Linked DNA regions of Homo sapiens: region 1 is linked to region 2. The links come from fine-mapping of genetic effects on gene expression. Tissue or cell type: whole blood. Region 2 holds a variant in brackets; the other region holds the start of a gene. All regions are shown on one strand. Distances are from middle to middle. Region 1 holds the start of NUAK1 (NUAK family kinase 1). Region 2 overlaps NUAK1 (NUAK family kinase 1).

What was found.
Region 1: NUAK1 starts here. The variant in region 2 is fine-mapped to the expression of NUAK1 in whole blood (TOPMed, PIP above 0.99).

Annotation. Positions count from the first base shown.
Region 1 is chr12:106,136,238-106,141,610 of GRCh38, reverse strand. It overlaps NUAK1 (NUAK family kinase 1), which reads left to right and starts at 2,657. Exons shown (of 7, transcript NM_014840.3): 1 at 2,657-3,197. The coding sequence starts at 2,958. RefSeq lists enhancers at 716-1,335, 3,727-4,228.
Region 2 is chr12:106,077,472-106,082,844 of GRCh38, reverse strand. The region is part of intron 4 of NUAK1 (NUAK family kinase 1); the gene reads left to right. Among named protein-coding and RNA genes, the nearest start is that of NUAK1, 59 kb to the left of the region's middle. RefSeq lists an enhancer at 1,454-1,954. The variant C/A (reference allele first, on the strand shown) is at 2,050.

The DNA of each region.
Region 1 (5,373 bases), 59 kb before region 2:
CCTGGGCATGACTGTGTGCTAGGCATTGTACTGGGTGTTTTTCATCCTTCCCATTTAAGGAGACGGAGCATGGCATATATGAAAGGAGAAGGGGGAGCTTTGGAACTGGACAGGTAGGGTTTAAATCCTGGTCCTGCCATTTACAAACTGTGTAACCTCTGGGAAATTACTTAACCTTTCTGATACGGTTTCTTCAATTGAAAATAGGGATTGTAAACAGCTACTTTACAGAGGAGGGTTTACTGTCATAAAACAGTACCAGCCTATGGTAGATGATGCTGTTGATTCAATAGATACTGATGAAGTCCCACATATCTGGGAGTAACACTATCAGCCAGAATAAGCCAGGTTATGCTGCTTTAACAAATCCCACTGACTTAACATAAATAAAGTTTAATATTTGCTGACACTACTTTTCCAATGCAGATTGGCTGGGATTTTCTGCCATCTTTACACAGAGACTCAGGCTGGCTTGGGGAGGCTCCAACTTTGTACCACCATGATTGTCAAGATAGGAAAAAGAAGACATGGGGATTTGCTCACTGGCTCCTAAAGGTTCCAAGTGAAAGCAACACAATCACTTCTGCTCTCATTCCATTGGCCTAAGCAAGTCCGATGGTCTCATCTAACTTCAAGAGGATGGGGTAGTGGATTTCTACCACATCGCAGGGGAGGGGAAGAAGTAGAAAATATTTTAAAATACTACTGTAGACACAATGTGTTTATCTCTACAATAGATCTGCTAAATCCATATCTTAAGAGAAAACCGAAGCTCTGAGAGGTTATGTCATTTGACCAAGGCCACACAGCCAATCCTCTGGGAAGCCAGGACTCAACCTGCATGCCACTCATCCTGACTGTGGGATCTATAGGCACAACGTCCACAAACTGTATAGAAGCAGAACAGTTTCAGGATGGGGGTGGGTGGCAGGGAGGCCCTGCAAATGCGGTGGACAGAATAGGAATTGAATAGGCATGATGCGCCTTTGTGTCTGTGTTCTGTCATTGCTCCTGGGGAAGGGAAGAAGGGGCAGGGAAGTTTGTGTGAAATATCAGTAGAAGGAAAGTTTGGACAGGTAAGAATATCACGCGTCAGAGTACAGCAGAGACACGTGTGGAGGATGAGGGCAGTGTTTCAGGCCATTACTCTGGCAGCAGTGAGGAGGCTCCCGGGGAGGGTTGGGGAGAGCGGGCTGTTGCTGGAGTCCGGGGTAAGGTGACCAGGGGTAGACAGGAATGAAGGCGGCGGGAATGTAGAGGAAGGGCTGCACCTGAGAGCTGCAGAGGAGGCCCCAGTGAGGTCCACTGGTGGAAAAGAACCGCCATGCGATCTGCAGAACACCAGACCTTCTTCAGCCTTCACTCTTCCCACCCTAGTCTGGTACATTGCACCACTTGTTAAAAAAAAAAATTTCCCTAAGACCTCTTTTTCTCTAGCCTTCTTCCTTATTTTTCATGGTCTCTTCTTAGAACGGCGGCAGCCACGCCGCGGTGGGAGGCCCTTCCTGCCTGACCCTTACCGTGCGGGGTACCGTTCCTGTCACCATCGCCAGGATCTGGCCCTTTCAGTGAAAGGAAATCTCCCAAGGCCTAAGGAGGCAAGAGGCCTGCAAATCGCCTCCTGCTCAGCAAACGGGTTGCTCAGCAGGCCCGGGGTCCTGGTCCACCCCAGGTCCCTGGTTTGCCCACCTCCGATGGCGGCCTTCGCTGGCAGGGTGGGCGCCTCTGGGGAGCCAGCTCCGTCCCGGCGCCTTTAGAGCCCCATCTCTTCCACGTCCCTGGCCTTCCTCCCCTTCCAGGCGGCTGTCCCCGCCGGGGTCCAGATGGTGTCGGAGGGCCGGCGGTTCGACGGCGGGCCCGGGGTTCAGCCTCCCGGCCTCCCTCCGTCCCTGACTCTCCTTTCTTCGGAGAGGGCGCGGGGGCCGGGGCCAAAGCGCCGCTCTTGGGGTTCTCCTGGACTCGGAGTTGCCCCAGGCGGGCGCAGCTCTGCCCCGCGGGGTGCCAGCCTCGGGCGGGCAAGGTCCGTGAGTCACCGCCTGTAACCGAACACCAGGCCTCCCTGCCCCCTCCCCCAGCTCCGGCCGCCAGGCTGCGGCGACACCTACAAGAAAATGAAGGGGCGCCCAGGCCCGCGGCGGCCCCGGCCGTATCGCGAGCAGGTCCCGGCGGCCCCCGGCTCGCGGCGCTCTTTCTTCCCCGGCCCCGGGGCTCGGCCAGCCGCAACCGCCGCCCCGGCGCCAGCAGGAATCCAGGCCGAGCGACCGGCCCCGGAGCCCGAGGCGGCGGAGGGCCCGCGGTAGCTGCGACTGGCGAGCCCGAGAGCGCCCGGGGAGGGGGCGCCCGGCTTGGAATTTCCCGGTCCCTTCCGGCCCAGCGAGGACAAAGCACTCCTGGCCGCCGCCGCCGCCGCCGCCGTGGCCTACGCCGCGCCGCACAAAGGGCGAGTCGCGACACGCTCCCATCCCCCTCCCAGCTCACGGCGGCCCCGGCCCCGGGTGGCTGCAGGGAGGTGGGGGAAGCCCTGGCTGCACCGCCCCTCGCTCCCCCTCCCCTGGGGCCGCGCGAGCGCCGCCCCCGCCCCGTCTGCGCGTCCTCCCGGGGAGGGGTTGGGGGGCGCGGCGCCCCACATAACACTCCCCCTCCTGCGCTGCGAGCCACCCTCTCCCCTCCCTCCTGCAAACACCACCGCCTCCCCTGCCACCGCCGCCACCTCGCCCGACGCTCCACAGCTCGCCGCGGCCGGGGGGCGGTGCGCGGACCGTGCGCGCCGCGGGCGCCAGATGTGCAGTCCCCGCCGCCGCCAGTGACCGAGCCGCAGTCCGAGCGGTATCGGGCCGCCTCCCTGATGCTGCGGGGGCGACCTTGAGCGTACAGCGGCTTCCCTCGGTGGGGACCCCGACATCCCAGCGCTGTGCCCGGTCTTGCCCTCTGTAGCCCGGCTCGCCCCGCGCTTGGACATGGAAGGGGCCGCCGCGCCTGTGGCGGGGGACCGCCCCGACTTGGGGCTGGGGGCGCCGGGCTCTCCCCGAGAGGCGGTGGCGGGGGCGACTGCAGCCCTGGAGCCCAGGAAGCCGCACGGGGTGAAGCGGCATCACCACAAGCACAACTTGAAGCACCGCTACGAGCTGCAGGAGACCCTGGGCAAAGGCACCTACGGCAAAGTCAAGCGGGCCACCGAGAGGTTTTCTGGCCGAGTGGTGAGTGGGGCAATCCTGGAGGGTGCGGGGGGCGCTGGGTGGACGCGGCCGGGGACTGAGGGCGTGCGAGGCGGGGGTCTGTGCGCCCTGGGGCTCTCTTGACAGAGAGGGGGCTCATTGGGAAGCCCCGAGACAGACTCCTCACTCTTTCTCCAGCACCCCGTGACTCAGGCGTGTCTCTGTCCTGAAACACTTGTTACATCCTGTCTGCACATATTTTATTTTATTTTTTGGTTTGTTTTTAAAAATTTAATCCTAGCAGCAAAGGAATGTTTTAGATTTGCAAACACTTTGCAGCGTTGGGACGGCCGGGGTCTCTCTCCCTCGCAGGCACTCATTTAGACCATGCCCCGAAACGTCTTATTTCCACAACTCTCCAAAGAACCACATTCCCAGCTAGGAGCTAGCCCCTCAAGTCCGGTGTTTTGTAGGTGTCCCTACCCCCTTCCACCCATCTGCCCGCAGCTCCTTGCTCTGCATCCTCCCACTCAGACTCTGCATCGCCCTGATACTGCTGTGACTGCAAGGGAGGGCGACTCTTGCCTGTTTTTGAGACAAGGTTAGGGAGCAAAAATAAAGACTACTGCAAGCCTGAGGATTCTAACAGTTTGCATCATGGCTTTGGGAGGACCGAAATGTCCAGGGCATGGGTAGCTACAGAGATAGCTGTGCTTAGTTGCAGCAGGCTCAGTTGTGTTTCAGCTCCTGGTTGCAGGGCTACCAAACCGCTGAAGGGGTCTGGCCCCGCTGCTCTTGTGACAGCTGACACCCTGCCAGGGTCCTGGCACCATTTGCACAGCTCCAAGGAGTGCTTTGAGTGCCTTGGGGTCTGTCTGCCTTGTCCCAGCCTTGGTTTGTTGTTATTTTCACTTCTGCAGAACAGGCCCTTGAAATCCACACTGCTTGTGGCTAGAGAGTTGGGTTCAAAGTGACTGACTGTTGCAGAAAGATTTTGTGTGGTGTGTGGCAGAAAATTAACATGGTTCTTTGATTTGAAGCAGATCAGATGTATTCTAATCGATTTAGGGCCAAAGTCAGAAACTGATTATGGGACTCCTTGTGTGCACTTTTGGGGGTGTTTTGGAGGCTCAGGTTTGCTTATAAACAACAAATGACTGCAGGGAAAAAGGAAAATGAGCTGTCAAATAAAATAGCAGCTTAGTATTGACATGTTTCTTTTGCATTTCGGCAGGAACAGTTCTGTGAAAAAAACATGGGGGTGCCAGTCAGCAAAGTTCAGTCCCCAAATTCTCAAATATCTGGATACCCGGATAACGCCCTCCCAACCCATTTCTCAGATTTGATGTTTGGGTCTATATAACTTCGTCCCATAACGTTATTTTAAAAAAAAATCTGTTATCAATTAATTGGAAATTTGAGATGGCGTACATTTCTTTTTAAAGCTGGCTCTGTAATAAATTCTACAGCAAGCAAGTAGTTGAGAATTCACTCTGGGCAGGTGCCATTTTCGTAGGATGAAATTGTTAAAGGGGAGGGTTGTAAGGGTGGCCTCTGATGAAGGCAATTTCAGGTTTGTGGAAGAAGAGGCTGGGAAACGTGCACTTCATTCATGCTTTTCTTCTGAGGTGATATTCCCCAGGCTGGATGTTGAATAAGCAAAAACTAAGCTTAGATCCCTGCTCATGTTGTCTTAATAGCTGCTGAAGAATCGCACTGGGAAGGTGGGAAGCAGAATAATGAAAAACAGACGCAGTTCGAGCTGCAGGTTGAGAATGTGAGGCTATGAGGGGTTGTTGAAGTGGTAAGGGTGTGTCTAGGGTCTGTGAAGGGACCCCAAAGTCTAAATGCTGGGGCACTACCTCAGACCTTTCTAACGAACGAACCCTTGTCTTATGGCAGACGCCTTTCTGAGCGTCAGTGGGACTTCCTGTCAGGCGTTCTTGAGCTGTCTGATCCACAGACTAGGTTAGAGTGAAAGGGATTTGCATCAGTAGGCAGGAGTCCGCCTTTCTCTTTTGGGGGATGTCTTTCTCTGTATTTGCAGAAACTGAACATTCCGTCAGGATTTAGTCAAGCGGCCACGAGGGGGCGCCCTGAGAACGAGAGAGGCTTCTTTACCAGCCGCAAATCTGAAGTCCCGCTGTGTTATTGTTCAGCCCTAGTTCATTTTCCCATTGTGCTATTAATTTCAGCTAAATCTCTTGTTTTACCCCAA
Region 2 (5,373 bases):
GCTATCAGTGGAGGAGCGTGTGATGAGACTTGTTTCCTTGCTTGGAAGGATGGAGTTGCTTTGGTGTTGGGATTCTCTGTACAGATCATGGCAGCAACCATTAGTCACCATCATCCTTTGAGAGGCCCCTGGAAGCCATGACCCAGTGACCTCTTGCTCTTGCAGAGTGTTTGACCGTAGTCACATGTAGTCTATAGAATAAGCAGGAAATAGTTGGTCAAAGTAGTTCTCCATGGGAATAGGAAGTGGAATCGCAGGGTCTATTTCTGGCAAAGTGGTTGGATTATTCTAGAAGGAGCACTGGTTGTAGAGTTAGGAAATTCCGGGCTGTATGGCTTACTAGCTTCTTGACACTGGGAAAACCACTTAACCCTGTTTCCTCAGCTGTAAAACGGGGTAACAGTACTACTCACAGGCCTGCTTAGAGCAGTGAATGAGACACTCTGTGTTTAGTTTTGTAAACTGCTAAGCACTCGTGTCCAAATGAGTCAAAGTTAAAAGCAGTGGCTTTGGAGTTAGATATTTCAACCCTGCCCCTTAGTAATGGCAGGATTTGGGGTAAGTTTCTTGATGATTTAGGCTTTAGTTTCCTCATCTGTCAAGAGTTGCCAGTTCCTGTCTCTGCAGATTATTGTTTATTTGTTCATTTTTGTTTCAAGGAGTATTTTCTGAACTGTTACTGTGTGCAATGCCCTGTGCCCAGTCCTGGAGAGTCAATAATAAACGTGAAGATTTTAGACAATACTACAATCAAAGCAATTCATGCTTAACTGTTACTATACTGGGAGCCTTCTTAAGTGGCTGGCCACTGGAGAGGGAATTGAACCGGAAGTCAGCTGCTCTGAAGGTGCCTACCTAGGTCCTGGGGAGTGGTGGTCAGGCCATGGCTGAAAAATTGGTCTTGGTTTGAGGGCCACCACATTTTTCTAAGGGTTTGTGTCATCAACCTTATTGACTTCCTCTCCAGATCCTTCCTGCCACCTGCCCCCAGAGCTCTCAAAACTAAATGTCATCTTTACAAGGCCTGGAATGTAAGCCTCTTGCCTAGGGGTTGGGTTCTATGGTGCAGTGTGACCTCTTGGTCCCATGATGTATTCCCAGAAGTGATAAGACACATAGCTTTCTATGAAATCATGTAATTCCCTAATGGAGGAAAAGAATGATTAGAATTCTGAAAGCAATTGTGCAGGGAAACAGTGAGGCAGGAGCCCAGGAGAATGGCTTCATTTGTGTAAGCAAAAGGGCAATGATGTTGGGCCTGACAGTTCCCCTGCACCAAGTTCTTCAACCTAGGGTGCCTGTGCATGATGGAGGGAAAGAGCACACACACAAAGCAGTATTATCAATTAAGGCTTAGGCATATACCTTTCCTTAAGAATTTCTAATCCTGGCATTTCCCAAGGTAAAGCACGGGTGTGCATGCACACATACGTCCCAAAGAGAAACCAGATCTTCCCATTATCAACACTTTTAAATTCCTTTCCTCTTTGTTCAAGGAATCCTACTTAGGTCTGAGAATCCTACATCTTTAAAGAACTTTGGGAGTCATTTTTCCAACCCCTTGTTTTAATGATTAGACCCAGAAAGTCTAGAGGATAATGCCCACGATCACACAGTGAATCAGTCTGGACTAAATTATTGTGTCTTTGCTTCCCCAGAGTGTAGACTAGTGCTTGGCACACAGTAGGTACTTCAAAATGGTTTGATTTTGGAATAAAGGAATGATGAGCCAGGATTAGAACTCATGTGTTTGACTTCCAGGCAAATTATCTTTTCATCATCTCCCATCCACTTCCAAGGTTTTAAAAAAATGTGATTCAGCTGGTCTTGATTTGTCTTCTGGTGGTATATTCTCAACTCTTCCTGACTCAGCATTTTGCTGAAACATATTTAGAAAGGACCCATGCTGGCAAAGGCAGGCAGATACATGGCCACAAGCCGGCCTCTGTGCTCAAGAGAGCCCCTGCCATCCGTGTCTGGACCTGGGGGACCACAGACACACGAGCCACGAACCAGCGGGACATGAGCAGCAAGATCCTCTCTTGGAGC[C/A]CCCTCTGGTGCTTCTCTAAATGTGGATCCATTTTCCACGTTTCAAGGGTGGAGGACTTTGGCCTAGGAAGCCTATATAAATGCTACTGGTTTAAACTTGTCACATGTCGCTGCAGTGGTGGGGAGAGCCATGTAGCTCATTCCTCTCCCCTTCCCTGCCTGATGTTGATTTGCAGAGCACACATCTGGCATTGGAAATTATTTATCTGGCACTGCGAGAGGGTGTGGTTTCTAAAAATATTCACACAGTCGGTCAGCAGAAAGAATGAGAGCAATGTGCTGCTTTGGGCTGCATTCCGTACTCTGGAAGCATGTCTACTAAAATAGACACCAAGCACAGCACTAATTTGCAATTAATAAAAAACGGGCCAAATTCACAGCCCACTCTCTGGGAGAATGGAATGCTGACAATTCCCATAGAAGGCTCCTGTAAAAATGTCTTACAATGAGAAGAGGTCCAGGCACCAGGGTCAGCCGACCTCCTCCAAGAGGGCTGGGAATCTGGTGAGCTCCCAGGGCTCAGAGTAGAGGGGCATAGGGGAAATGGCCTGCTGCCCCTTAAGACAATGGAAGCGCGGCTGCTGTGGATAAGAAAAGAAGCTTTGAATGGCCAGGGCCAAGATGAGATAGAAACCTCTGAAGCTTAATAAGACCAAGTGGGGCAGCTGAGAGTCAGCCTCTGGGCTTTGATGATATGAATGGGAGAGCTCTGTGTTCATGCATGAATTAATCAATTCATGTGTTGTGTGTATATATCCACGCATACCTGCATTCACTCATCCATTCCTGCATTTATTCACTGAGGAATTGAACGTCTTTTCTGGGCAATATTTATTTGATCAGAAATATTCATTAAGGTCCTACTGTGTACTTGACCCTGTGCTGGGGATTTAATAGTGAACTAGATGGCCAAATTTCTGTCTTGGAACTCAGGATCTCGCAGTTGTTAAACTAGCAGTGATAATGAGCCGTGAGGAGGATACAGAAGTCAGTGAAGAAGAGAAGGTACCTGCTCTAGTGAGCTTAAAATTCCAGTTGGAGACACAGCAGTAAACAAATAAACACATAATGTAATTGGCTGGCAGTGAAGAAAATCCATGCAGGATGAGAATGAAGAATAGAGTTGCTCTTTTACCTAGAGTGGTCAGGGAAGGCCCCTGGTATAGGACTTGAATTCCTGTCATCCACCAAGCTCTCTCTGGCTTCTTGACCTTGGCACACATGGTTCACACTGTCTGGAATGCTCTGCTCATTCCTTTTTGCCTGCTCCTTCTTTGGGGTCTCTGCTTGACTGCCTCTTCTTCCAGGAAGCCTTCCCTGATCCTTCTCCCTTGGCAGGGCCAAATGGCCCTGTGTAATGTATTCTGGAAGTGCTGAGCAGGAAGCAGTGGGTCTGTCTGGCTGGATGGACCAGAAAGCTTTCATGGAGGAAGAGGGATTGAATTGGGTTTTGAGGGATGGGTAGGAGTTTGATAGTAAGGAGCATGATGATGGCTTTTCAAGAGGAAGAAACAGCAAGCACAGGAACACAGCATGGAGACTAGAAAAGGAAAGTAATGCTTACTGAGCCCCTGCTAGAAGCTAGAGCCCCATGTCAGACCTTCCACACCTTATTTCATTTGGTCCTCAGAATGTCTCCACCGGGGTGGGTGTGATTACATCATTTTACAGAAGAGGAAGCTCTTGCAGCTAATAAGTGATGGGACTGGCTACAAACCTATGGCTATTTGACTCTAAAGACCAGACACCTGATGAATTCTACTCTCTACTCTTACTATCCAAATTTGCCATACATCTAAGAGCACATCAAATGAGGGCACTGTTTGGTCCATGCTTTGGTCAGCCTTACCTTGTCTGCAGGCAGGCTTGCAGACAGCTATCACTGCGAGAGACTCTCCAAGTGCTAATGGTGGCTGATGGCCAGGCTGAGTCATGGTGGCCAGAGTAGCCATGCGGGGATGCCAGGGCTGTGTGCTGTGAGCTGGCACTGGCTGCTAATTAACATCCATGGGAGCTGCTGCTTGGACGCGCCCTCTTTTAAGAGCCTCCTCACATTGTTCCTGGTGGGAATTTCTTTTCTTTTAAGAGAGGCAGCATGAGCTTAGATCCTCTGAAGACAGAAGCCGACCCCACTCACTTCTGCTCCTTGTTCCACTCCCTGCCTTCACTTCCTGGCAACTCAGGAGTGAGGCTGTCTTGAGTGAAGCCACAGCGATCAACTCCAAGGCCGGAAAGGAGTTATGGAGTGTACCTTCCTGGATGGAATTGCTGTCTTCCCGAAGAGTTACACAGAAAGTGCATTTCCTCGTCAGCCACCTGACAGCAATAACTCCCCTTTATGTAGAACTTTACAGCTAAGGCAGCTGTTCACCGATGTCTCAGGCAAGCCAGTTTACCACCCTGTGCCTCAGTTTTCTTATCTGCAAAATAAGGATAATTTTAGAATTCCACTATCTGCAATCTTCCAGATAGGGTTGTTGTGAGAATTTACTACATCAATATATGTAGCACTCACAGAACCGTGCCTGGCATATAGCAATGCTGCTACTGTTACTTTTATTTTTAGAGACAGGGTCTTGCTCTGTCGCATAGACTGGAGTGCAGTGGCACCATCATAGCTCACAGCAGCCTTAAACTCCTGGCCTCAAGCAGTCCCCCTGCCTTAACCTTGAAAAACACTGGGATTGCAGGCATGAGCCACCACATCTGGCCTATTTTAATTCTTTTCTTGTTTAATCTGGCTTTGATTTTCACAGCACCAAGTGATTGGCGGTATTGCAATTCCATTTTCCAACAAAGGAATCTGAGACTCAGAGAGGTTAAATAAAGTAGTCATAGCTAACATTTACTGAAGGCCTACTGTGTGCTAGGTAGGCATGGTGTAAGCACTTCCATGAATCAGTTTATTTGGTTTGGTACCAGCACTTCCAGGTAGGTGACATTATTATCATCAACCCCACTTTACAGATGAAGAAATGCAGGCTTAGAATGGCTAATGTGCAAGTGCGTATTATACACTGGGGCTCTTGTGAAAATGCAGTTTTAGTGGATCTGGGGCAGGGCCTGAGTGTCTCAGTTTCTGAAATGTTCCGAGGTGATGCTAATGCTGCTGGTCCGTGGGCCAGATTGGAGTGGGGTGGGATTATCTAAAGCGCCTTGGGTTAGATGCTGGTACGAGGCAAGGCTGAGATTTGAACTCAAGTGCTCAAACCCTGAATCCTTTCCTTTTCCCATCCTATGATGCAGCTTCTCACTCTGAACGTGACTGTATTATAAATGAGTGGTAAGATCTCCTGGCTCTTTAATGGGCAGTGGCTTTAATGC